7 linked regions of the Homo sapiens genome follow. The protein of the gene in region 2 purifies or fractionates together with the protein of the main gene of each other region. This does not show direct contact. Each region holds a gene or a part of one and is shown on either strand. Other genes may lie near its edges. The genes, in order: DDX11, ZNF174, SKAP2, ATF7IP, PI4K2B, PUS7 and EML4.

The links.
Region 1: the proteins of ZNF174 (region 2) and DDX11 purify together in Homo sapiens (affinity purification with mass spectrometry; one large-scale study listed by BioGRID and IntAct). This does not show direct contact.
Region 3: the proteins of ZNF174 (region 2) and SKAP2 purify together in Homo sapiens (affinity purification with mass spectrometry; one large-scale study listed by BioGRID and IntAct). This does not show direct contact.
Region 4: the proteins of ZNF174 (region 2) and ATF7IP purify together in Homo sapiens (affinity purification with mass spectrometry; one large-scale study listed by BioGRID and IntAct). This does not show direct contact.
Region 5: the proteins of ZNF174 (region 2) and PI4K2B purify together in Homo sapiens (affinity purification with mass spectrometry; one large-scale study listed by BioGRID and IntAct). This does not show direct contact.
Region 6: the proteins of ZNF174 (region 2) and PUS7 purify together in Homo sapiens (affinity purification with mass spectrometry; one large-scale study listed by BioGRID and IntAct). This does not show direct contact.
Region 7: the proteins of ZNF174 (region 2) and EML4 purify together in Homo sapiens (affinity purification with mass spectrometry; one large-scale study listed by BioGRID and IntAct). This does not show direct contact.

What each region holds. Positions count from the first base shown.
Region 1 is NC_000012.12:31,097,860-31,101,359, reverse strand, and holds part of DDX11 (ATP-dependent DNA helicase DDX11), read right to left. Parts: intron 3,476-3,500; coding exon 3,363-3,475; intron 3,184-3,362; coding exon of another isoform or gene 3,059-3,183; intron 801-3,058; coding exon of another isoform or gene 765-800; exon of another isoform or gene 726-764; coding exon 653-725; intron 389-652; coding exon of another isoform or gene 334-388; coding exon 230-333; intron 1-229. UniProt on the Homo sapiens protein: DNA-dependent ATPase and ATP-dependent DNA helicase that participates in various functions in genomic stability, including DNA replication, DNA repair and heterochromatin organization as well as in ribosomal RNA synthesis.
Region 2 is NC_000016.10:3,399,848-3,404,014, reverse strand, and holds the start of ZNF174 (zinc finger protein 174), read right to left. Parts: upstream 2,801-4,167; 5' UTR 2,011-2,800; coding exon 1,609-2,010; intron 1-1,608. UniProt on the Homo sapiens protein: Transcriptional repressor.
Region 3 is NC_000007.14:26,735,591-26,739,090, forward strand, and holds part of SKAP2 (src kinase-associated phosphoprotein 2), read right to left. Parts: intron 3,289-3,500; coding exon 3,205-3,288; intron 1-3,204. UniProt on the Homo sapiens protein: May be involved in B-cell and macrophage adhesion processes. In B-cells, may act by coupling the B-cell receptor (BCR) to integrin activation. May play a role in src signaling pathway.
Region 4 is NC_000012.12:14,417,682-14,421,181, reverse strand, and holds part of ATF7IP (activating transcription factor 7-interacting protein 1), read right to left. Parts: intron 3,215-3,500; exon of another isoform or gene 2,606-3,214; intron 1,969-2,605; exon of another isoform or gene 1,821-1,968; intron 1-1,820. UniProt on the Homo sapiens protein: Recruiter that couples transcriptional factors to general transcription apparatus and thereby modulates transcription regulation and chromatin formation. Can both act as an activator or a repressor depending on the context.
Region 5 is NC_000004.12:25,240,533-25,244,032, reverse strand, and holds part of PI4K2B (phosphatidylinositol 4-kinase type 2-beta), read right to left. Parts: intron 1-3,500. UniProt on the Homo sapiens protein: Together with PI4K2A and the type III PI4Ks (PIK4CA and PIK4CB) it contributes to the overall PI4-kinase activity of the cell. This contribution may be especially significant in plasma membrane, endosomal and Golgi compartments.
Region 6 is NC_000007.14:105,505,272-105,508,771, forward strand, and holds part of PUS7 (pseudouridylate synthase 7 homolog), read right to left. Parts: intron 3,274-3,500; 5' UTR 3,242-3,273; coding exon 2,844-3,241; intron 1,003-2,843; coding exon 918-1,002; intron 786-917; coding exon 684-785; intron 1-683. UniProt on the Homo sapiens protein: Pseudouridylate synthase that catalyzes pseudouridylation of RNAs.
Region 7 is NC_000002.12:42,259,853-42,263,352, reverse strand, and holds part of EML4 (echinoderm microtubule-associated protein-like 4), read right to left. Parts: intron 2,233-3,500; coding exon 2,059-2,232; intron 176-2,058; coding exon 47-175; intron 1-46. UniProt on the Homo sapiens protein: Essential for the formation and stability of microtubules (MTs). Required for the organization of the mitotic spindle and for the proper attachment of kinetochores to MTs. Promotes the recruitment of NUDC to the mitotic spindle for mitotic progression.

The sequences.
Region 1 (3,500 bases), on a different chromosome or scaffold from region 2:
TTTTATGAATACATATTTCGCAGCCTAAGGCGTGAGGGGCGGGGAAGCTCAGACCTTCCTCCATAAGCATCTAGATCGACGCCGCTCATTCTGTGTGGCTCTAAGCGGGTGTCCCTGTGCAATTTCCCCAACACTGAAAACACTCAGGGTGGGCCAGAGCGCCCCTGCCCCAGAAAACCCTTTGCTGCCTGAGGCCAGGCTGTGGTGCGGCGAGCTGGCTGGGACTGACCATCTGAGGCAGCTCTCTTTTCTGGAACGTGAATTCCAGCGGCTGGTTGGAGATCCCGCTGCAGATGACGAGGGGCAGGATGTTGTCTGGAGGGATCACGTGACCTGGTAAGAGCCAGGGAGGGGCCGAAAACTGGAGATGCAGGTGTGCTGCAAGACACTGCAGAGAGGGCATTTCCCTGCCCCATCATCCAGCACAGGAACAGCGACTGACAGCGCTCACCCGCCCACCATCACCAGTCACACTGGGCAGCAGGCAGCAGGGAGCAAAGCAGGAGAGCCTGGGCGAGCGCACGAAGGGTGAGGCTCCCACCCCGGGGTCTCCTCCGCCCCTGTGCCTGGTCGCAGTATGAGGTATTACCCACAGAAAACGGGGGCCAGAACCTGACCTCTAGCCTGCCCCACCCTGGGCACAGCTTCTCACCACAGGAAAACTCCACCACGCGCTCAGCTTCCACCCCGGCACAGGCCAGCAGCTGCTGCCGGAAGTCAGACACCTGTAGACCAAGGCCACAGCGTCACGGCCCCATGACCCCTCAGAGGCCCAGCAGAAAGGAAGCGAGAAGTCTGGGCTAAGAGACAGCAAGTACACACAAACTGAAAGAAGAGGTCAAAGAAAAGGCTGATGGCAAACTAACAAAAAGAAAAATGGTGACTGATACCCAGTGCTGGCAGTCTCGTTTAAACTATGTGCAGGAACAGCAAAGGAAATCCAGCAAATCTGGCACAGTCATTATCAACCCTGGCCATGCAGCAAAATCACCAGCGAAAATTTTCAAAAATACACATGGCCAGGCCCCAGCCCAAACTACTGAATAAGAATCTCCAGGCTTTCACCTGTTAGACTGGCAAAAATCCAAAAGTAACCACTCTGGAGAAACAGGCATTCCTAGACAGTACTGGTGGGATACAGAATGGTACAATTCTCATGAAATTTCACAGTAGTTAACAAATTAAACATATTTATACTTTTTAACCCAGGAATCCCATATTTAGGAGTCCAGTGAGAAGATACAGCCCACAAATACCAAACAGCATGTGCCCCCGGACCTTTCCCTGTAATCATGCGCCTGCCTATCCAGAGGGTACTGGTTGGATAAGCTCCCTACATCTGTCCAACAGAGAACCACGCAGCCCACTAGAGGAGCGATGGTCAGACAACTGACTAAGATGCCTTCTGTGTAAATAAAACAGGAAAGGGAAAAATGAAGACACGTTTTTGCTTATTTAGGGGAAAAAGAAAGACTGAAAGGATAAGCTAGTAAAACGGATTCCCTATGGGGGTGGGGAATGGGCTGGAAAGGGATGAGAGTGAGGCTTTCCTGAATAGATCTTTTTATATTGCTTTGACTTTTGAGCCATACAAATATTTACATATTTAAAAACTACAAGTCAGAAAAGAAAAAAGCAAATTCTAAAATTGAAAAGAAAATGAAACAAAAACAGCCTAGTTATCTATGAAACTGACAACAGAAGCACACGGAGAGAAGCCTGGTTCCACGTGACTTTAGAGCCTAGTGACCAGGCATCCTTAGTGGGTTACACTCTAAAGGCAAAGAGGAAAGGCAATTTCAATCAGATCTATTGTTAGAAGTAATATTGGTACTATGATTTCAAAACTTTTAAGTATATTATAGGATAGAGCAGATAAGTATGTTAATGTAGCACACATGTTCAGGCTTAAGAGAAAAAGAGGTACAATAAAAGGTCAAGTAAACAAATCCTTTGATTTTTACTTAGAAACACCAATATGGGCCAGGCGTGGTGGCTCATGCCTGTAATCCCAGCTCTTTGGGATGCCAAGGCTGGCGGATCACCTGATTTCAAGACCAGCCTGGCCAACATGGTAAAACCCCATCTCTACTAAAATACAAAAATTAGCTGGGTGTGGTGGCACATGCCTGTAATCACAGCTACTCAGGAGGTTGAGGCATGAGAATCGCTTGAACCCCGGAGGCAGAGGTTGCAGAGAGCCGTGATCAGGTCACTGCGCTCCAGCCTGGGAGACAGAGCGAGACTGTGTCTCAAAAAAAAAAAAAAAAAAAAAGAAAGAAAGAAAGAAATACCAGTATGGATTCATTCTGAAAACATTTCCTAGATCTGTCTACCAAAACGCCCCAGGAGCACGACAAACACCCTAGCACCCACAGCTTGACTTCTAAATGTCATTCCCCATTACAAGAAACCAGAGCAGCTTGGAGAAATGAATCAATCCAGTGTGGGGAAAGGACACCCATGGTGATCCCATGACATTCTGCTGTGCTGGAGGCGAGACTGACCGGGCCACGGGGAGGACCTGAGCTAGCAGGAAGGGGCTCTCACAATGTGAACGTCAGAAACAATAATTACTGTAAACAACTTTTAATATGCCGAATGAATAAAACTATGAATCTATCCATACAAAAATATAAAAATCAAAAGCTAAGGCAGCTGGGGCTGGGAAGCACTGCTTCAGGATTCCCAGCAGCTTTTTGTCCAGGAGGCCCTTCGCTAGGTAGGAGTCACCACTGTGCAGAAATGCGGTTATATTTATCACAGTCATGCTCAAAACAGAAAACTGCAAATAGCTTGCACACCTAACAAGAGAGAAGCAGCTACATGAAATGCTATATATCTGTGTAACTGGAATCCAGCACAGCTGGGATACTGAAATACGTGCATGCTTGCTGACAAGGAGACAGGGTTTATGACCCTCTGGCTGCTGAGTGAAAAGAGCAAGTTCCAGTGACAGCACATGGAGGGAGCCGTACTTTTGTTTTTAAAACAGCTATGCACATAAGTAAAAATTACGCCTACAAAGACTATTATATTCATATACATCAAAATGAACCTTTTAAAAGTGGAATCATGATTTTTTTCCTTGAGTTTGAAACCACAGAACAGCTTTCTCTGGGAGACATGTGATCCTGGGGCTACAGAATGGAGCAGCAGAGGAGTCTCCACTGCTCCTGCAGCCTAAAAGGCACAGCAGTGAGAGAATAGCAGTGTCACCCAGCGGACACCACTGGGCCTGCTCGAGCTGACCCTTTCTGGCTTGGGGCCCCAGGAGAGAACAGGACTGATAATGCATCTCTCCCAAGCCCCCATCTCATCCCAACACCTGGGGCACGAGGGGCTGGGAAAGGTGTCCTTACCGGCTGCATGGTACCCCCCGCAATGACCACTGCCCGGCATTCCTTCACCACTTGGGCAAAGTGCACAGCTGGATTCAGGAGCAAAAACTTCAGGGTGCTCTGACTGAGGCTGCCTGGAAAAACAGATCGGTGGGAGGT
Region 2 (4,167 bases):
ATACATTGTTCTGCCAAAGGCTTTCCTGGTAAGGAGATCCCAGTAGTAGTAGGGGTCTAAGAGGACCACCCCACCTTCATTCCCTAACAAGTTCTATTTTCCGAAGTACCTGCCGTTTGCTTCTTGCCTAGGTCCTGACTGGGGTCTGACTTCGGGGCGGGGAGTGGCAAGCAATGGCAACGCTGGCCAGTTGAACTGTAACTTCCTGATCCAAAGACAATAAGCTAGTCAGGCATTGTGTGGCTCACTCCTGTAATCCCAGCACTTTGGGAGGTCAAGACGGGCGGATCGCCTGGGCCCAAGAAGAGTTCAAGACCAGCCTGGGCAATGTGGAGAAACCCTGTCTCTACAAAAGTACAAAAATTAGCCACGCATGGTGGCATGTACCTGCAGTCCCAGCTACTTGAGAGGCTGAGGTGTGAGGAACACTTGAGCTGGACATGGAGGTTGCAGCGAGCTGAGATCGTGCCACTGCCCTCCAGCCTCAGCAACACAGTGAGACCCAGTCTCAAAAAAAAAAAAAAAAATCAAAGACAAAAAGCTAGGCCAGGTGTGGTGGCTCACGCCTGTAATCCCAGCACTTTGAGAGGCCAAGGCGGGAGGATCACTTGAGGTCAGGAGTTCGAGACTAGCCTGGCCAACATAGTGAAACCCCCTCTCTACTAAAAAGTACAAAAATTAGCTGGGCGTGGTGGCAGGCACCTGTAAACCCAGCTACTCAGGAGGCTGAGACCTGAGAATCGCTTGAACCTGGGGTGCAGAGGTTGCAGTGGGCTGAAATGGCACCACTGCACTCCAGCTTGGGAAACACAGCAAGACTCCATCTCAAAAAAAAAAAAAAAAAAAAAAAAAAAAAAAAAAAAAGACTATAAGCTAAACACTGGAAAGACAATAAGCTAGAACTTCCAATGAAATGAAGTTCCCCAAAGTCCAACTGCTACCCAACAGGGTGACCCTATCTGCTAAGAATTCTGCTAGTAGGAAAACTAAGTTGGGTGGGGGAAGAGCTGACAGAAGGGATTTAAGAACCTTACAATTACTTCTGGTGACACAAGGTGCATAAAGGAATGGTAAGAACCTTGGTCCTCTGTTGCCTCACTGGGTATCAGTAGTTGGATTTTCTAAAAACCTGTTAATAACTCAGGATAGGTTCCCAGATAGAGGCTGGAAGCAACTTCTGAAGCCATCCAGTCCACTTCTGAGACTTAAATAGGGAGAGATCCAGATACCAAACATTACCCAGATGAAAAAGAAATCGGCCGGGCACGGTGGCTCACACCTGTAGTCCCAGCACTTTGGGAGGCCGAGGCGGGCGGATCACGAGGTCAGGAGATCGAGACCATCCTGGCTAACACGGTGAAACCCTGTCTCTACTAAAAATACAAAAAATTAGCCGGGCGCGGTGGCGGGCGCCTGTAGTCCCAGCTACTCGGGAGGCTGAGGCAGGAGAATGGCGTGAACCCGGGAGGCGGAGCTTGCAGTGAGCCGAGATAGCGCCACTGCACTCGGGCCTGGGCGAAAGAGCAAGATTCCGTCTCAAAAAAAGAAAAAAAAAAAAAAAGAAAAGAAAAAGAAATCCCCAGGATGATGGGAGAGGACCCTCCTTACCCACTGCTTTGGTTTCTTGGATGCTCTGTGAAAATCTTCCACGAGGGTCACAATCTCCTTGCTGCTCATTGGACATCGATGCCTGACCCGAGCCTGGATCTCCGGGGGCAGGATGGTCAGGAACTGCTCCATCACCAGAAGCTCCAAAATCTGCTCCTTGGTGTGCAGCTCGGGTTGCAACCACTGACGGCAGAGCTGTCGGAGCTGGGAGAGAGCCTCTTGGGGTCCAGACACCTCTTGATAACAAAAGCGTCTGAAGCTCTGGCGGCAGAGCTCAGGATCTGGGCAGTTTTTTTGCAGAGGAGGGCCCCGTTTCTCTTCTAGTTTGGCTATTATGTGTCTCTCTTGCTTGGAGGAAGCTTCAGTGTTGGAGCTTAAAGTTATCTCCATTTTAGCTGCCATTTTGGGCGTCAGGAGACAACTCTCTCCTTGTAAACGGGTTAAGCCTTTGGGATCATGACCCTGGAGAAGTCTCTGAATACTAGAAAGATTCTAGAAACGAAGGTTCTCTGAGGATGTTAGGGGGAACGGGATGCAGAGACAAAGCCTCACTTGCTAGCCTTTACTAGCCAAACTCAAGACAACGCGGTCCCTGGGAGTGGGAAGAGTTTTGTCTTCTTGTCAGTTTTTTGCAGTCTTGCAAAGGAGAAAAGTCATAACGTCCTAAAAGGACTCTGGGGAAAAAATACTTCTTTTATTTCAGTAGCAAGCACACAGGTCTCGGATTTAATGAGCAATACGCTCTAACCGGCGGGTGGAGCGGAATCCCTAGGAAAAGTTCAAGCTGTCGCAGGTAGCTTGCCCCAACTCTCCCGCATCCTGGCGGAAACCGACCGGGTGCATGTCGCCGGGTGCTAAACGGTAGAGCTAAGCGAGGCCACAGCGCCAGCCGGGGGTGTGAGGTAGCGAACAGCCTCCTGCACGCGAGCAAAGCGGCTGCTCGCTGCCGAGGCGCCGCAGGCCCAGTGGCTCCGGCCTCCAGGGCGGCCCCGCGGCCCAGCCAGCCCCAGGCCTGGCGAAGCTGCCGCAACCCGATGCGCAGCTGAACTCCACGCCCGGTGTGAGCTCGGACTGGCGACTGCGACACCGGTACCCCGAACAGCCCGGCGCCCCGCACCCACCTGCAGCCGACTCACCTCTCCGGGAACCCAAGACCGAGGGACTTAGGACCCGACACCGGCGAGCACGGGCTGGGGGCGGGGCCGATGCCACTCGCTGCGGAGACGCCCACTAGCTGCTGAGGACAACTACTGACAGGGCCCGCCTCCTGCCAAGGGCATTCTCTACCGTCTATTGGTTGCTGCGCCTGTCAATACCGTCGCAGTGCATCCCGGGAGCTGCAGTCCGGCAATTCGGCTTGCGGGCCTGCGCAGGGGCGTGCGTAATGGGCGGAGCGAATCGCGCCGCTGACTTCCGGCCCGGAGGCTGAGGGAGTTTGTGGAGTCGCGAGTGCTGGTGTCCGGTGAGTTCTCCGCTTCCTTGCGGCCGGCGGGATTAGCCGCTGGGCCCTGCGACGGCCGAGGAGCCCCTCCCCGCTGGGAGTCTTCTCCGAGGCGTTCGGGTCCGGCCCCGATGGGCGTCTCCTTGGGACAGGCAGCCTCCCTCAGGCCGGGCGTCCCCAGACGCGCCGCGATCACCGTGCCCCGCTCCCACCGTGCGGATCACCCCGAGCCTGAGCGCCGGCGCCCCGGGACCCCCTGGCCTTGACCCTGCTCATCTCGTCCCTGTCTCGCCCACTCCCTACTCATCCACAGTGCCTAGCCCTGGCACCGAGTGCGTTCTGAGTACTCAATAAATAGTTAACTAAGTGAAAAACCTATCAACCTGGCTCCCCATCCTCATGCTACATTTTTTTCCGAGTGTTTGGGCCATCGCTAGAGTGAAGTAAAATTTTCAGAGAACAGCATTTTAAAATTTAACGATGAGTGGGAGGTAAGGGGTCAAAAGGGGTCAAGAAGGGTGCAGGTTCCGCCTTCTGCATGAAGTTAGAAGAGCTTTTATTAAATTCTTCTTCAGCCAGGTAAGGCACAGGATGAACATAATGAAGGCAAGGGGTGCTGGTTCTAGTCCTGGCCTTGCTGCCTAGGAGCTGTGCTGTGTGATGCTTTAGGCAAGATACTTCATCGCTCTCAGTTTCTTTTTGGCTAGAAAGCAGTGCTAACAATAATAATGCCCTTGATTTCTCTATCTCTAGAAGCACTGAAATGTAAAGAGAATTTAAGTGAAGGCAGTTCAAGTTCCTTGAGAAAAGGGAACCCAAATCCATTTTTAAAATATAAAAAAATTTCTTTAATTTTTAAAAAACATTTACCATCATAACCATTTTTAAGTGTACAGCTCAGTAGTCCTGAGTATATTCATCTTGTTGTGCATGCTGGATCCATTTTAATACCACATGGTGAGGGTGTATCAGCCCCTGGAGAAAATGTAAATTACGATCTGCTTTAATCTGTGTTTTAAGTAGATAAAAACCAACACAAACTCATTAAAAAAGACTGCCTTCGCGGGTGCAGTGGCTCACACCTGTAATCCCAGCACTTTGGGAGGCCAAGGTGGGAG
Region 3 (3,500 bases), on a different chromosome or scaffold from region 2:
CAGTTTAACCTAGTAAGTGGTGTCAACTCCTTCTGTGCCTCTATAATCCATTTATCTAAATCCTACTTAGTTGGAGGATTATAGTTCTCATATAGCTAGATATGAGTTCTTCCCATTAGGTAAATGGTTCACACATACAGTAAACAAGGCTATAAAAAATCATATCTAATTTCACAAAAGAAAAAAATTATTTGACATATTTTCCTGGTAAGAAAAAGATATAAAGGAAGGAAATCGGGATCATGCCAAACAAGTAATTAAAAACTGTCTAAAGACAGATCTTTTTTTGGAGTCCCTTAAAAGAGAGGAACTGGCTAAAAATTTCGAATGAAACCGCCAATAGAAAAAAGAACCACAAGAAACAAATCTAAAATTTCACTGGAAACAGGAGGCTGCAAAGTAAAAGGGAAAAATTTAAGGAAACACAAGCCACATCTTCAGACATCAACATGAAAAAGGAATGCTAAAATGGTAATTTTTTTAAAGTGGAAGTGTCAGAGGCTTTTAAACCAGAGCAACTCCGTCTTGAATAGGGGCTGAGTAAAATAAGGCTTTGACCTATGGGGGCTGCATTCCCAGGAGGTTAGGCATTCTTAGTCACATGATGAGATAGGAGGTTGGCACAAGGTACAGATCACAAAGACCTTGCTGATAAAAGGATGCAGGAAAGCAACTGGCCAAAACCCACCAAAATCAAGATGGTGATGAAAATGACCTTTGGTTTTCCTCACTGCTCATTATATGCTAATTATAACGCATTAGCATGCTAAAAGACACTCCTACCAGTGCCATGATAGTTTACAAATGCCATGGCAACATCAGGAAGTTACCCTATATGGCTTAAAAAGGGGGAGAAACCCTCAGTTCTGAGAATTGCCAACCCCAGTTCAGGAAAACTCATGAATAATCCACTGCCTGTTTAGCATATAATCAAGAAGTAACAATAAGTGTAAGCAGCTGAGCAGCCTATGCTCTGCTTTGCCTATGGAGTAGTGATTCTTTTGTTTCTTTACTTTCTTAATAAACTTGCTTTCACTTCCCTCTACGGATTGGCCTCAAATTCTTTCTTGCATGAGATCCAAGAACCCTCTCCTGGGGTCTGGATCAAGACCCCCTTCCAGTAACAGAAATGACAGAAAGGGCTAAATGGATCACAAAGTAGTTAAAATGCAAATTACAAACAATGTTACTACCATTAGGTCTCATCAAATAAGAATAAAAATGAACTCAGGAATTCAAGATTGCAGTAAGCTATGATGGCACCACTGCACTCCAGCTTGGGTGACAGAGTGAGGCCCCCGCATCTCTAAAAAGAAAAAAAAAAAAAGGAATGTAACTAATATCTAAATAACTCTAACTAAAATGTTTTCATTGAATATATTAGTGTTTGAAGTAAATATTAACACGCTTTGGGTTTTGGGGAAACTCTTGCTAATCTTTGACCTAACCATTGTTATATGCCAGTCAGGACTAGAAATGGAGGAAACACTGACATTAGTATTCATTGATTCTTAAAGAAATTAGAAATGAGAAGCCTAATTGAATCAAAGTCACAAGGATCTGAAACCTCCCTCCCCTGGTCTGGTGAAAAAGAGGATATTTTGTGGAAGGTAGTATCTCGATCTAAATTCACAATATCATACAAAACTATATTTCTATGATCTGTGATAATCGTAACTGAACTTGGACTCTAAATTTTCTGACCTACTTCACTACTGACCCTTAGCAGAAGAAAGATGCTTGTTTATAGCTGTTTACAGTTTACACTTCACTGATGCCATTACTACATCTGAACATACTGTAAATTAGTGATGGAATGCAAACTAGCTACTAAATTAATTAATTTGTTAATCTCATTAGCCAAAAGGTAAGAACAACTTCCAGCATTATGTAAGTATTTCAGACTTATCTGAAATATGACAATCTTACCTGTATGTTTTTAGAATGGGGGAAAAAACTCTAAAAACTATAAATAATGTCAAATAAAACATAAATTTCCAAACAACACTGATAACAATTCCATAGGAAAGCTTACATTCAGTGATACTTTTGCCTTTTTCTTCTTAAAGTGTCCTTTCTGGAAATGAACATTATCTATTTTGATACAACCTTTACTTTATAATATTCAACTCCTAGCCTGTTTTCCCCAGAATAAAACAAAACTCAGAAAGCTTACAATCTTTAAATTTCATTATTTGGTGGCTTTATTTGTTCAAATAACAATCTTAAAATTATGTGAACTACAACTGAGAGATTTATTAATTAACAATGAAGTTATAAAATGTATCCTATTATTTCTAAATTAATGTAGTGACAATAGTGGTTGAGAACATGGACTCTAACCATATTCTCTAGGTTAAAATCCCAAATTTGAGCTGGGTACAGCGGTGTGCACCTGTAATCCCAGCTACCTGGGAGACTGAGACAGGAAGATCACTTGAGCCCAGGAGTTTGAGGCTGCAGGGTGTGATGACTACACCTGTGAACAGTCACAGCTCTCCAGCCTAGGCACCGAGACAAGACCCTGTTTCTAAAAACAAAGGAAAAACAAATTCCTAGATCTGCCATTTTCCAACTCTGTGACCTTGAACAAGTCACTTAACCTCTCTGTTCTCAGTTTTCCTAAAAGTCAAATTAATGGTGCTAATAATAGTACTTACAGAGTTGTTGTGAGCTAAACAAGTTAACATAGCTAACGTACTTAGACAAAGTGCTTAGAACGGTGCCCAGTATATAGTAAATTCTATGTACACGTTTGCTGTTATTCCTTAAATCTGTAAAGGGAGCTCAGAAAGGTGCTGTTCGTATTTAATTTTATCTAATTTTATTTTAAAATATTTAAGAAAAATAATCTATTTTCTGCCATTGAAACTCTCACAACCCTATGTTCTTAACTTTTCCAGAAATTCTACAACAGTAGGCTGGATAATAAATATTCCCTAAGGTGAAAGGCCACACAGATTAAAGTTATTTTACTCTCTTTTCTAATTCAATACAACACAATTGTTTTAGCTCTGAGGGTATTCTGGTATTTGGAGCATTTGTCAAATAATGAAATGAATCATAAATTAGTCAGATTATAATTGTTATAATTCTCAGTTATTATTAGTTTGTCTTCAGTTTACTCTGTACTCAAAAGAGGGGGAAGGGATGGCCAAAAATTCTTTTGCAATAGTAGTTGATATAATTGAACACCAACATTACCTTTATCACTTCCATAATAATAGAATACCGTTTTACTGAGAGCACACCACCGTTTCTGCCATTCAAATCCCAGAAAGCTGTGATCTGCAATAAAGAGGGGAAAATGTAAGGCCATTTCCTTACTGTAAAAGAAAAAGTTAATTAATATGATTTCTAAGATTCCTCTGAGCTCTAACATTGTGTGACTAATTTGTATCTTCTTTTCCAAGAGACAAAAAACCAAACAACAACAAACCAACACAGCTAAAGGGAATAAAGTAAAGTAGCTATGGGGCTGCCATACTTATGGGATCAAC
Region 4 (3,500 bases), on a different chromosome or scaffold from region 2:
CAAATCTGATAAAGGTTATCTACCAAGAAAACTAGAGATATCATGTCTGATATTGAAATAGGATCAGAAGAAAACAAGGATGTTTCCTGTAACCATTTCCTTGTTAACATCTGGCCAGTGCAATAAAGGCAAACAAAAGAGCACAAGGATGTGGTTCTGAAGAAAAACAATGTCATCAATCAATAGTAGAATAAAACAAAATTGCTTTAAGGACTAAGATGTACAGGAGGCAGGAATACTGTTTTCACATTGGATAGTCACTTACCATTACCATCACCAGTAGGAATGATATGGTAGAATACATTTGCTTTGGCCTGAGAAAGAAAGAAAAGCAGCCCCTGATGCCTGGAAACTTAACTGATACTCACAGTTAGGGCTCAATGTTGTTAATGGATCTGATGCTTACAGTTAAGCCATGCTGTTCTCTGGTTGGACATAAAACCAACTCAGAGAACATTCAAGTCAGACAAGGTCACTGTGCAACCCACAAAATTCCAAACATCCCCCCTCACTAAATGAGTGATGGCTATTTCTTTATTTTTTTTTTCTTTTTGAGACGGAGTCTCGCTCTGTCGCCCAGGCTGGAGTGCAGTGGCGTGATCTCGGCTCACCGCAAGCTCCACCTCCTGGGTGCATGCCATTCTCCTACCTCAGCCTTCCGAGTAGCTGGGACCACAGGCGCCCGCCACCACGCCCGGCTAATTTTTTGTATTTTTAGTAGAGATGAGGTTTTACCGTGTTAGCCAGGATGGTCTTGATCTTCTGACCTCGTGATCCACCTGCCTCGGCCTCCCAAAGTGCTGGGATTACAGGTGTGAGCCACCACACCAGGCCAACTTCTTTATCAATTACAGCTTTATCTTGTAATAGTCTGTCCTCCCTATATAGATAAAATTTATTGAGATACCCAAGAATAGAAGTGCCCCCACTTTCTGATGTCACCCAATCCACGATAAGGATCTACTTCCTTAATCTCTCCCCAAAATAACCCAACCTATACTATACTCAAATCCTATACTAGGTTTTTTCTAACATCCTCTTACTGATTGATGTGCCTTACAGTTTCCCCATAGTGAACATTATTTCCTCCCTGCAGCAAATAGTAAACCTAACTTTTTCAATTACAAAGGTGTTCCTGCTGGTCTTTGGCTGAAGCGCATAAAATAATAAGCCTAGCCTACTTGCTGGAAGCCAATTCAGCTTGAGATTCTAGCACTTTGTCAGAGAATTTCTAGACTGTGATACATTCTGTATTCATTCTCTCACTTTAAGCCAATTACTTAGAACATATTTCTTATTCTAGCCATTTTATTTAAATTATATAACTAAATCAACTATTTAGAAAAATTACTCTTCATTTAAACAGAAACCTTAATACAAAATGTATATATAATAATACAAAACCTTAATACAAAATTATACAAAATTTGTATAATATAATACAAAACATTATGTTAAGGGTTTTTAATTACAGACTAAAATTTCACACCTTCAAGGTTTTTCCCTTCCCATCATTACAAAGTTTTGCTAACTGCAAAATTTTCTGCAAAAGATACAGATACAATGCATTGTATTTTGCTGTCACTTTTCCTTACTAATTCCAAAACTACAAAATAATTAAGTTTATAATATAAGTAGTATAGTTACCCTTTAAGTATTTCAAAATACTGAAAGGCCATTCTTTTGAACTTTAGCCTCATAATATCCGCATTTCTCAGATATTAGATGGACAGCTGGTAGTTATTACCAATTGCATTAAAAGTATTCCTTTTAAAAAATTCATAACTTTTAATAACCCAATTAAGAACATGAACTCTTACATTAAAAGTAAGCATTCCTTTAAAAAAATTCATCACTTTTAATAACCCAATTAAGAACATGAACTCTGTAGACTGTAGACAGATTCACAGATTTGAATTCCAACTCTCCCAGGAAACCTACTGTGTGAGACTGGGCAAATTACCTAACATCAATTTCTTAGTTTTGGTTACCTTAAAAAGGGACTAATACCAACACCTGTCACAAAGGTTGCCATGAGAACTAAATGAGATTCTATACATTAAGCACTTGGAATGTAGTAAGAACTCAATAAATGGTATAACCATCACCATCTATATATTCAGGATAACGTTTTTAGGAATAAACTAAATATTCAGGATAATGTTTTTAGGAATAAACTAAAGAGTCTAAGACAAATTCCTCTTTGGTATTTTTTATATAAATTAGAAAATCCAACATGTAAACCTCACAGTTAATATTAAATTGCCACCACCAAATAATATTTAATAAAAATATATAATTCAAGAAAAGTTGATTTTATCAATAAAATTGTCATTAACTTCAGTAATAATAAAGCACTCTAAAAAGAATTATAGAATAACTACCATCCATACCCACAAGGGAGCACACTACAGCCATTTACCAGATCTTATGGGTTCTAAATATAATAAAAAACAGACAAAGCAATAAGGAAGTAACACGAACAATTAGTTCAAACTAGTTCAGCCATATCTGTACAAACCAATCAGCAGTCTGCTTTTAGAAATGTATTTTGCATTAGCGAAGCATATTTGAGAAAGATACACATTAGAGAAGGGTGTGTTACCTGCAAACAAGTTTCCATGGCTGTAATACCAGTGCAAAACACTTCCAAGGATCATTTTAGTACTGTCGCCTAGAACTAAGATGCCATTCATAAAACTATTCTATAAAATAAATGTTAGTATTTTAGGTGGCAACTCAAATCAGAAAGCTTTCACATGACTGTAATTCATTTTCACAGAAAAAAGCATTGGTATTTTACGGCAGAAGATGTCTGCCATGTCTAAAAGTAACTGCAAAACATGATGAACTAGTTTCTCCTGAAAGTATTTTTTTCATGAGGATGAGAGTCAAAATAATGTTTTTTAAGTCTCTGTATATTCAAGAACTCTGGGAAAATAATATCACTAATAAAACCTTTTTCTATAGAAATTTATATTTAAATAACCAGAGAAGGGTATGTTACCTGCAAATAAGTCTCTCTGGCTTGGAAATTTTTTTTTCAAATTTTTGGTAAATTATTTTTAAAATATTTTTAAGGAAAGCCCAACGAGCTTCTTCTTTAAATGAAAACATTACTCTCTTCTCTGCTTCATCCCCCTCCACCCACTTCTTTCTAGCAAGAGATCATAGCAATGAAACAACAAAGGGAAGCTGTTATGTCTTAGCCTACAATCTGCCTGCTCAAAAAGCTCAAGAATTTAAATGGCTGTTCAAGAGCTGCTCACAAACTCAGCCAATCAGCAGCCAGCATTCTGATTCCTGCCCAGCAACAGGAGACAGACAATAAGGTCAGAAAAACATAGTTAAACAAAAACTGTATCTGCAATACTTAAGTGTGGTTCTTTGTTTGAAATAAGTAATCTAGAACACAGTTTACATAAAACCCTAAATCCACGTAACACGCATTAAATATACCACACACATAAATGGATAAGATTTACATCTTTTATGCTATT
Region 5 (3,500 bases), on a different chromosome or scaffold from region 2:
CTTAGATCAAATCCTGGCCTTTAATGAGAAGAATGTGACTTTAGATGCAGCCCAAGAGTTTGGAGATACCTGGTGTCTTAGTCAAGTAAATGATAGAATGACAGCCGAAGAAAGGGACAAATTCCCTACCAGTCAGCAAGCCATCCCCAGTATGGATCCCCACTGGGACCTTGACCAGATCATGGGGACTGGAGTCGTAAACATCTGTCGACCTGTGTTCTAGAAAGACTGAGAATTAGAAAAAAGCCCATGAATTATTCAATGATGTCCACCATAACTCAGGGAAAGGAAGAAAATCCTTCTGCCTTCCTCGAGCGGCTACGAGAGGCCTTAAGAAAATATACTCCCCAGTCACCTGAATCACTCGAGGGTCAATTGATTCTAAAAGATAATTATTACCCAATCAGCCACAGATATCAGGAGAAAGCTCCAAAAGCAAGGCCTGGGCCCTGAACAAAATCTAGAGGCATTATTAAACCTGGCAACCTCGGTGTTCTATAATAGGGACCAAAAGGAACGGGCCCAAAAGGAAAAGCAAGATCAGAGAAAGGCCGCAGCCTTAGTCATGGCCCTCAGACAAACAAACCTTGGTGGTTCAGAGAGGACAGAAAATGGAGCAGGCCAATCACCCGGTAGGGCTTGTTATCAGTGTGGTTTACTAGGATGCTTTAAAAAAGATTGTCCAATGAGAAACAAGCTGCCCCCTCATCCATGTCCACTATGCCGAAGCAATCACTGGAAGGTGCACTGCCCCAGAGGACGAAGGTTCCCTGGGTCAGAAGCCCCCAACCAGATGATCCAACAACAGGACTGAGGGTGCCCGGGGCAAGCGCCAGCTCATGTCATCACCCTCACTGAGCCCTGGGTATGTTTAACTATTGAGGGCCAGGAAATTGACTTCATCCTGGACACGGGCGCGGCCTTCTCAGTGTTAATCTCCTGTCCTGGACGACTGTCCTCAAGGTCCACTACCATCTGAGGAATCCTGGGACAGCCTGTAACCAGGTATTTCTCCCACCTCCTCAGTTGTAATTGGGAGACTTTGCTCTTTTCACATGCATTTCTTGTTATGCCTGAAAGTCCCACACCCTTATTAGGGAGGGATATATTAGCCAAGGCTGGAGCTGTTATCTGCATGAATATAGGGAACAAGTTACCCATTTGTTGTCCCCTACTTGAGGAGGGAATCAACCCTGAAGTCTGGGCATTGGAAGGACACTTTCGAAGGGCAAAAAATGCCCAGCCAGTCCAAATCAGGTTAAAAGATCCCACCACTTTTCCTTACCAAAGGCAATATCTGGTAAGGCCTAAAACTCATAAAGGATTACAGAATATTGTTAAACATTTGAAAGCTCAAGGCTTAGTAAGGAAATGCAGCAGTCCCTGCAACACCCCAATTCTGGGAGTACAAAAACTGAATGGTCAGTGGAGACTAGTGCAAGATCTTAGACTCATCAATGAGGCAGTAATTCCTCTATATCCAGTGGTACCCAACCCCAATACCCTGCTCTCTCAAATACCGGAGGAAGCAGAATGGTTCACGGTTCTGGACCTCAAGTATGCCTTCTTCTGTATTCCCCTGCACTCTGACTCCCAGTTCCTCTTTGCCTTTGAGGATCCCACAGACCACAAGTCCCAACTTACGTGGAAGGTCTTGCCCCAGGGGTTTAGGGATAGCCCTCATCTGTTTAGTCAGGCACTGGCCCAAGGTCTAGGCCACTTCTCAAGTCCAGGCACTCTGGTCCTTCAATATGTGGATGATTTACTTTTGGCTGCCAGTTTGGAAGCCTCATGCCAGCAGGCTACTCTAGATCTCTTGAACTTTCTAGCTAATCAAGGGTACAAGGTGTCTAGGTCGAAGGCCCAGCTTTGCCTACAGCAGGTCAAATATCTAGGCCTAATCTTAGCCAGAGGGACCAGGGCCCTCAGCAAGGAACGAATACAGCCTATACTGGCTTATCCTCACCCTAAGACATTAAAACAGTTAAGTGGGTTCCTTGGAATTACCGGCTTTTGCTGACTATGCATCCCTGGATACAGCGAGATAGCCAGGCCCCTCTATACTCTAAACAAGGAAACCCAGAGGGCAAATACTCATCTAGTAGAATGGGAACCAGAGGCAGAAACAGCCTTCAAAACCTTAAAGCAGGCCCTAGTACAAGCTCCAGCTTTAAGCCTTCCCACAGGACAAAACTTCTCTTTATACGTCACAGAGGGAGCCGAGATAGCTCTTGGAGTCCTTACTCAGACTCCTGGGACAACCCCACAACCAGTGGCATACCTAAGTAAGGAAACTGATGTAGTAGCAAAAGGCTGGCCTCACTGTTTAAGTGTAGTTGCAGCAGTGGCCGTCTTGGTGTCAGAAACTATCAAAATCATACAAGGAAAGGATCTCACTGTCTGGACTACTCATGATGTAAATGGCATACTAGGTGCCAAAGGAAGTTTATGGCTATCAGACAACCGCCTACTTAGATACCAGGTGCTACTCCTTGAGGGACCAGTGCTTCAAATACGCACATGCATGGCCCTCAACCCTGCCACTTTTCTCCCAGAGGATGGGGAACCAATCGAGCATGACTGCCAACAAATTATAGTCCAGATTTATGCCACCCAAGATGATCTCTTAGAAGTCCCCTTAACTAATCCTGACCTTAACCTATATACCGATGGAAGTTCATTTGTGGAGAATGGGATACGAAGGGCAGGTTACACCATAGTTAGTGATGTAACCATACTTGAAAGTAAGCCTCTTCCCCCAGGGACCAGTGTCCAGTTAGCAGAACTAGTGGCACTTACCAGAGCCTTAGAACTGGGAAAGGGAAAAAGAATAAATGTGTATACAGATAGCATGTATGCTTATCTAATCCTACATGCCCATGCTGCAATGTGGAAAGAAAGGGAGTTCCTAACCTCCGGGGGAACCCCCACTAAATACCACAAGGAAATTATAGAGTTATTGCATGCAGTGCAAAAAACCCAAGGGGGTGGCAGTCTTACACTGCCAAAGCCATCAAAAAGGGGAAGAAGAGGGGAGAACAGCAGCATAAGTGGCTGGCAGAGGCAGGGAAAGACCAGTAGGAAGGAAAGAGACAGGAAGTCAAAGAAAGAGACAGAGAGGAAGAGACAGAGAGACAGAAACAGAGAGACAAAGAGAAGGAGACAGAGAGAGGAAGAAACAGAGAGTCAAAGAGAAAGTGACAAAGAGAAGGAGTCAGAAAGAAAGAGGGACAGACACAAAGTCAGAGAGTCAGAAAGAGAGGAAGAGACAAAGAAATCAAAGAGAAAGAAAGAGAGATGGAAGTAGTAAAGAAAAACAGCATACCCTATTCCTTTAAAAGCCAGGGTAAATTTCTGTCTACCCAGCCAAGGCATATTCTTGTTATGTGGAACATCGACCAATATCTGCCTCCCCACTAACTGGACTGGCACCTGCACCTTAGTCTTTCTAAGTCCCAACATTACCATTGCCCCAGGAAATCAGACCCTATCAGTACCCC
Region 6 (3,500 bases), on a different chromosome or scaffold from region 2:
GGATTACAGGTGTGAGCCACCGTGCCCGGCGAACAAAAGCTTTAACAACAAAATTTACTATTCTACTTAGTAGCTGAGCTCTCCTTTTCTTCAATAGCAGAATTGACCCACGATGAGCAAATAAATGCTCCCCTACTTCCTTTCCCCATTTCCTCCCCTTCCCAGAGTCCCAACTGAGGCCAAGAAGCTGCTGAAGCCAGAATCTGACCTGGGTCACATACCTGACAGACAGCAAATGGTGGTCCTGTTACAACGGACATTGTGGTATAATTGGTACTCTGGGATTCTAAACAACATATGTCGCTGTTCATTTGTGGTCCCTAAATTTTTTTTTCAGAGATGATGTCTCACTATGTTGTCCAGGCTAGTCTCCAATTCCTGGGCTCAAGTAAACCTCTGGCTTCAGCCTTCGGAGTAGCTAGGACTTTGGAATAGCATGTAACACTGTACCCAAATAAAAATGTTTTTAAACAAAAATGTAACTTTGGGGGGGGCTATAGTTTATCTGGGATACTAGTTATCTGCCCCAGTAAAAAAATTTTTTAGTGTAATATCCTTTAGATCCAATAGAGCAAAAAGTCACCCTTTGTTAACCATTGTAATTTTTTCCATAAACACTTAACATCCACCCAAAAAGCAACTAAAACCCTAAATAATTTTTCATATATTTTTGCATTAGTTACCTCAATGGCAACACTGGTTTCCTTATTTTTGAACAGCTGGAGCTCTTCCAATCGCTGCTTTTCTTCAGCTGTCAAAACTGTAAATATGTCTTCTGAAGGGTCCTTTAAAATAACCATGAGAACTCACAATGAATCATACATAGAATTCAAGTTTAATAAAGCTCTATATTTCTAAATCTCTAGGAAATGCTATTTTTATACAGAAGGTGACATTTGCTAAAGAGCTACTTCTACCTCCTCATCCACTGGAATGGACAAGTCATTCAAATGGCTGATCCGTCCATCTTTTCCTATTTCATGAACAACGAAGTCGGAGTATCTGATGAAAGAAAACATGAACTTTCAGATAATTAACATCCTGTTTTCTATTAATTTTAAGATAAAGTTGATCAACAGCAAGCCTTACTATTATGCAAAACAAGGAATTTTAAAAAATCTTCAGTGCAAAATCACATGGAGTTAATTTTTTTTTTCTTTTTTTTTTTTGAGATGGAGCCTTGCTCTGTTGCCTAGGCTGGAGTGCAGTGGCTCGATCTCCACTCACTGCAACCTCCGCCTCCTGGGTCCAAGTGATTCTCCCGCCTCAGCCTCCCGAGTAGCTGGGATTACAGGCACGTGCCACCACGCCCAGCTAATTTTTGTATTTTTAGTAGAGACGGGGTTGCACCATTTTGGCCAGGCTGATCTTGAACTCCTGACCTCAAGTGATCTGCCCATCTTGGCCTCCCAAAGTGCTGGGATTACAGGCGTGAATCACCACATCCGGTCTTTTCTGGTTTCTTAATGAATGCTGAGCCATACCTTGGCTCAAGTTTTATATGAGAACTTAAAGAAAAGACCCTCTTAGCTTCTAGAATATTCTTCCAGAGAAATGCAAAAACAAAAGCTTATTAACATTACCCTATGACGATTCAGGCAGCCCACACTAAATTAAATCACAAAATATGCTATATGGTTAATTGAATCAGAACCCAGTAAGTCTACCATGAACTAGCCTGAAGCTTACCTTTATGTTAAATATTTTACATGCATTATTCAAAATCCTCAACAACCCCAATGTGGTAATATGATCCATTTAAAAATTTTATTTTATTACTATTATTTTTTTTGAGACAGAGTCTTGCTCTGTTGCCCAGGCTGGAGTGCAGTGGCTTGATCTTGGCTCACTGCAACCTCCGCCTCCTGGGTTCAAGTGATTCTCCTGCCTCAGCCTACCGAGTAGCTGGGATTACAGGCGCGTGCCACTACGCCAGGCTAATTTTTGTATTATTAGTAGAGACAGGGTTTCGCCATGTTGCCCAGGCTGGTCTCAAACTCCTGACCTCAAGTGATCTGCCCGCCTTGGCCTCCCAAAGTGCTGGGATCACAGGCGTTAGCCACCGTGTCTGGCCTGATCCATTTTTTAAATAAGGATGCTGAGGTTCAGAGAGGCTAAGTAACTACTAAGTAGCGAACTTCACACTGGGATCCACCTGGCTCCAAAGACTACCTTCTTCTAACATAGTTGTGGCACATTCAAATGAAAAAAGAGTTTAAGATTATAAAACAAACTCAGGAGAAAATCTGAAACCATTTAAATGAATTTATTCATTTACTTATTTTTTTGAGACAGAGTCTTGCTCTGTCACCCAGGCTGGAATGCAGTGGTGCAATCTCGGCTCACTGCAACCTCCACCTCCCAGGTTCAAGCTATTCTCCTGCCTCAGCCTCCCGAGTAGCTGGGATTACAGGTGCCCATCACCACGCCCAGCTAATTTTTGTATTTTTAGTATAGATGTGCTTTCACCATGTTGGCCAGGCTGGTCTCAAACTCCTGACCTCAAGTGATCCGCCAGCCTCGGCCTCCCAAAGTGCTGGGATAACAGGCGTAAGCCACTGTGCCTGGTGAATGAATTTATTTGAGGCATGATCATGCCACTGCATGCCAGCCTGGGTGACAGAGTGAGACCCTCTCTCAAAAAAAGGGAAAAAATTAATTAATTAAAATTTAAAAATCCAAGGCTATTTATTCAGGCAGGTTTCCTTCATCCTATTCCTTTTGATCAGTAGTATAAACAAGCCTTGGAGATGGAAAGCTAAGTGGAAGAATATAAAGCTAATTTCTTTCTAAAGAAGAAACCTAATACAATCAAAATAACTTTATTCATAAACTAAATGTACCTTTCTTTTAAGATTCCCGAGAACCCTTGATGAGAACTCACAAACTTGGTGATGCCTACGTCAGCCTCAGTGAGTCCATGCTTCATCATGTCTGCAAAACTCTCTGATTCCTCCTCCTCGCACTCCTCTGAAAGTCCATCTTCCTCCTCTTCTTCCTCATCTTCCAACTGAGCCTCAGAATTCTTTCCACCTTTCCCAGTACTGACAGTGTCAGGAGGCCGAGGCACGTCTTCACTGATGGACAGAAAGTCATTCTGTAGCCCATCTTGACCTTTGGTTAGACTGCATTCCGACAGCTTCTGTTTTTTTGTCTCTTCAACTGGGACTCCACTGTCATTATCTTCGACAACCAGTGCCCCACGTTTCAGCGACACACCAGTCATTTCTGTCATCTCCATCTTTAAGGCTCCAAGAAAACATTTAAGAAAACCTGTTAGGAAAGAGTAGAAAGTAACAATCACCTATATAAAAGCTGGTTTCAGGCCGGGCGCGGTGGCTCACACCTGTAATCCCAGCGTTTTGAGGGAGGTTAAGGCAGGCAGATCACTTGAGGTCAGGAGTTCAAGACCAGCCTGGCCAACATGGTGAAACCTCATCTCTACTAAATATTAGTTAGGCGTGGGTGGCAGGCGCCTATAGTCCCAGCTCTTGGGAGGC
Region 7 (3,500 bases), on a different chromosome or scaffold from region 2:
AATAATTATTACTTTTCAGATATAATGAAGAAAGTGCAATACTTACTTGTCTGCAGTTTTGGTAACTTTTGGTATTAATTTGGGTGTTGAAGGTATTTTCGACAATTTATTACGGCTATCATCTGAATTTTCCCAAGAATTATGTGACTTTTCAGCTGGTGATGGTCGTTTTATGCTAGAAGGAACATTAATTTCTTAGAGAAAAATTCTGAGTATCAAAGACATGTAACTGACAATTTAAACAGAACACAAAAGCAGCAATTAACATTTCCTTAAAGCTAATCCAGAAAAGAGAAGGATTAGTTGAAAGACTGCCTGGATGAGTGAAGGAGTTAAACAAGGCAATTCCCAAATCTGTATTATAATTTTCTGTATCACTCAGAAGATTCACTAGAACAAATATTACCTGATTTTTTTTAAAAAACACTTTTGTTAACAGAAAAAAATTATTTCCTTACATCTGAGTAATGTTTCTTATAATTTGTAGTTACAAAAAAACCTGTATTTTTTCATAGCCATTGAATTTTATAAGGCTGCCATTTTCATTTTTTGTGCAATTATGTCCTCAGGTAATTACATTACATATGGTACAAATGACAATTTCTAAATATAACAAGGTATAAACTCTTGTTTATATCTTTAGGGACAATTTTACCAATGATCAGAAATAAACAAGACTTTATATAAGAATGTGGTTATTGGCAATCCTGATTCCCTATACTTATAAGTGAAATTTGTTTCTTTACAAATGATTTTTTCATTGCATTGCTAACTATCCTCAAACTCATCCAGTCTCCAATACTTCTTGCAACAGTATATCCAAAGAGCAATTTAGGAGGGCAAGCACATTTCCAGGAGACCTCAAGAAGCTGAAAAAAAGATGCTGGGACAAAGAAGATATCAAGTGAAATCAGAACCTTAAAGAGACTGATTATAAAAAGCCACCTTAAACCACACACAATCCAAAGTTATGTAACGTTAATAAGCTATATCCAAGAAAAACTCCACAGGAGACCAGGCAGATAAACTACAAACCATTTAGATTGGGTAAGAATCTGCATGAGACACACAGACAAAGCATTTTGTAAGTGGTAAACATGCATCGATCAAGTGAAGGGTATTTTGGTTTTCCCAATTTCCATTAGCGATTTGAGGCAAAATATTAAATTGATCAAATAAAAATTTAAATCTTTTAGGAATGGTTGTCATTTATTTTATTAAAATTCTAGCCAGTTCTGGAAATGGTTTAATAGTTTCCTAAGATTTCCAAGCAGAAGTACGATGATAAAATATGACTATTCCTAATCACAAGGCTTGAATAAGCATTTCTAAACAGGCAAATTTAATTAGATTGGTCTCAATATTTGATTAGGAGGCAGCTGTAGCACTGTACTCCCAGCATGCAGGTTTAGATTCTCAATTTAGGCTCACACACATTGTTAGAATATTTCTCCCTTTTCCCCTTCTCATAACTTTAAAATATTAATTATTACGGACACAGAAGCCCTCAAGCAAGCCTTTAGCATAGAAAAGACCAGGTGAAATGGATTCATTTCTCTACTCAAGCAAGAACTTATCCTCCCAAGACCCAAAACTGAAACTGAGATGCAGCCACAGTGAAGAGCCACTTGAGATGGGCCCTTGCAGGTTGAAGGTTGTAATGATGCCAAAATACAGTGAGGACAATTACATATGGCCATTTTCTATCCATGGCTATAAATTTATGCATAGTTACATACATATTTTAAAAGTATTCAAAAATGTGGTTAAGAAAATATTGTTTGGTTTTCGACTAGGTTATTCCTGCCTTCTTTTCATCAGATTGTTTATAACTTAGTTTTTTTTTTTTTTTTTTCCAGTTTTAACTGAGAAATTGTGACCTTAATTCTTTATTCCCCAATGGGCTATAAAGCATAAATTATAAGCAATGAAGAAGGGAAAAATAAAGCCACCAGCTTTTTCTCTCAGAATCCTTGGATAGCTAACTTTTTCCCAAGTCACAGAATTTAGGTATCATTACAACCATTCCCTAGCTCTGTACTTGGGGACAGTTAAAACCTTTTGGTGGGAGTAGCATTCTTGCTTTCTGGAGTTTGTCTGTGTATTTGGAGAGGTTGTGAAGAGGGCTGGGGAGAAGGTGATGCTCGAATTTGTGGACTTTGATCATTAGAATGAGATTCCTCTTTTTTTTCTCTCTGTCCTTGTGGTTTTTCTTTCTTTTTTTCTGTACCACTGTAAAATAAAGTATAACATGGAACAATACACATTTAAACAAATGAAAAAAAATCAAACGATAGAAAAGTGATTATTATATAATTCAAAACCCTAAGTCATACAGCTAATACAATTTGCACTGTTTTCATTCAATAAGGACAATATTTCTTTGAAAATTCCAGAAGCTATTAACATCTTCAGTAAAGAATTTATAAAAATTCTAAGGCGATACACCCCATGAAGATTGCCCCTTTAGACAGAAATGGTCTCTAATAAACTTTGCCATCTTGGCAGATTTTGGGGGACAAATGAAGGTCTCTTAACTGACCTCAAGTTACCCAAATCAGAGGACTATCTGTGTAAAGCATACCGACTGATGCCAAAAGAACACTAAATATTCATGTTTAATAGGTTATTCTCCAATTCCTGTTTTTTTTCTGTATACTTCTACTCCACTCAATTGAGTTTTAAACTTACCAAGAGTTTAAGTTTTCCCCAAGTCTGTTTATGCCAGTTGTTATTTTAATTATGTAAGTTAATTAAATACAAAGAGAATTGCAATTTCTATGAAAACTAAGTTTAATGTTCTAGAAAGACTACAAAAAAAATGAGTTATCAAAAAAATTGCTGTTAAATTTAGTGTGAGTGACACAATTTAAAAAATCACAGAGGCGGCTGGGCGCACTGGCTCACGCCTGTAATCCAAGCACTTTGGGAGGGCGAGGCAAGTATCACCTGAGGTCAGGAATTCAAGACCAGCCCAGGCAACATGGTGAAACCCCGTTTCTACTAAAAATACAAAAATTAGCTTGGCGCAGTGGCATGTGCCTGTAATCCCAGCTACTCGGGAGGCTGAGGCAGGAGAATCACTTGAGCCAGGGAGGCGGAGTTTGCAGTGAGCGGAGATTGCACCATTGCACTCCAGCCTGGATGACAGTGCGAGACTCCATCTCAAAAAACAAACAAATCACAGAGCCCGGGTGTGGTGGCTCACACCTGTAATCCCAGTACTTTGCGAGGCCAAGGCAGGAGGATTACTTGAGCCCAGGAGTTCAAGACCAGCCTGGGCAACAAAGTGAGACTCTGTCTCTTTAAAAAAAAAAAAAATTGGCCAGGCACAGTGGCTCACGCCTGTAATCCCAGCACTCTGGGAGGCCGAGGTGGGTGGATCACGAGGTTAGGAGATCAAGACCATCCTGCCTAACATGGTGAAATCCCGTCTCTACTAACAAATACAAAAAATTAGCTGGGTGTGGTGGTGGGCGCCTGTAGCCCCAGCTACTTGG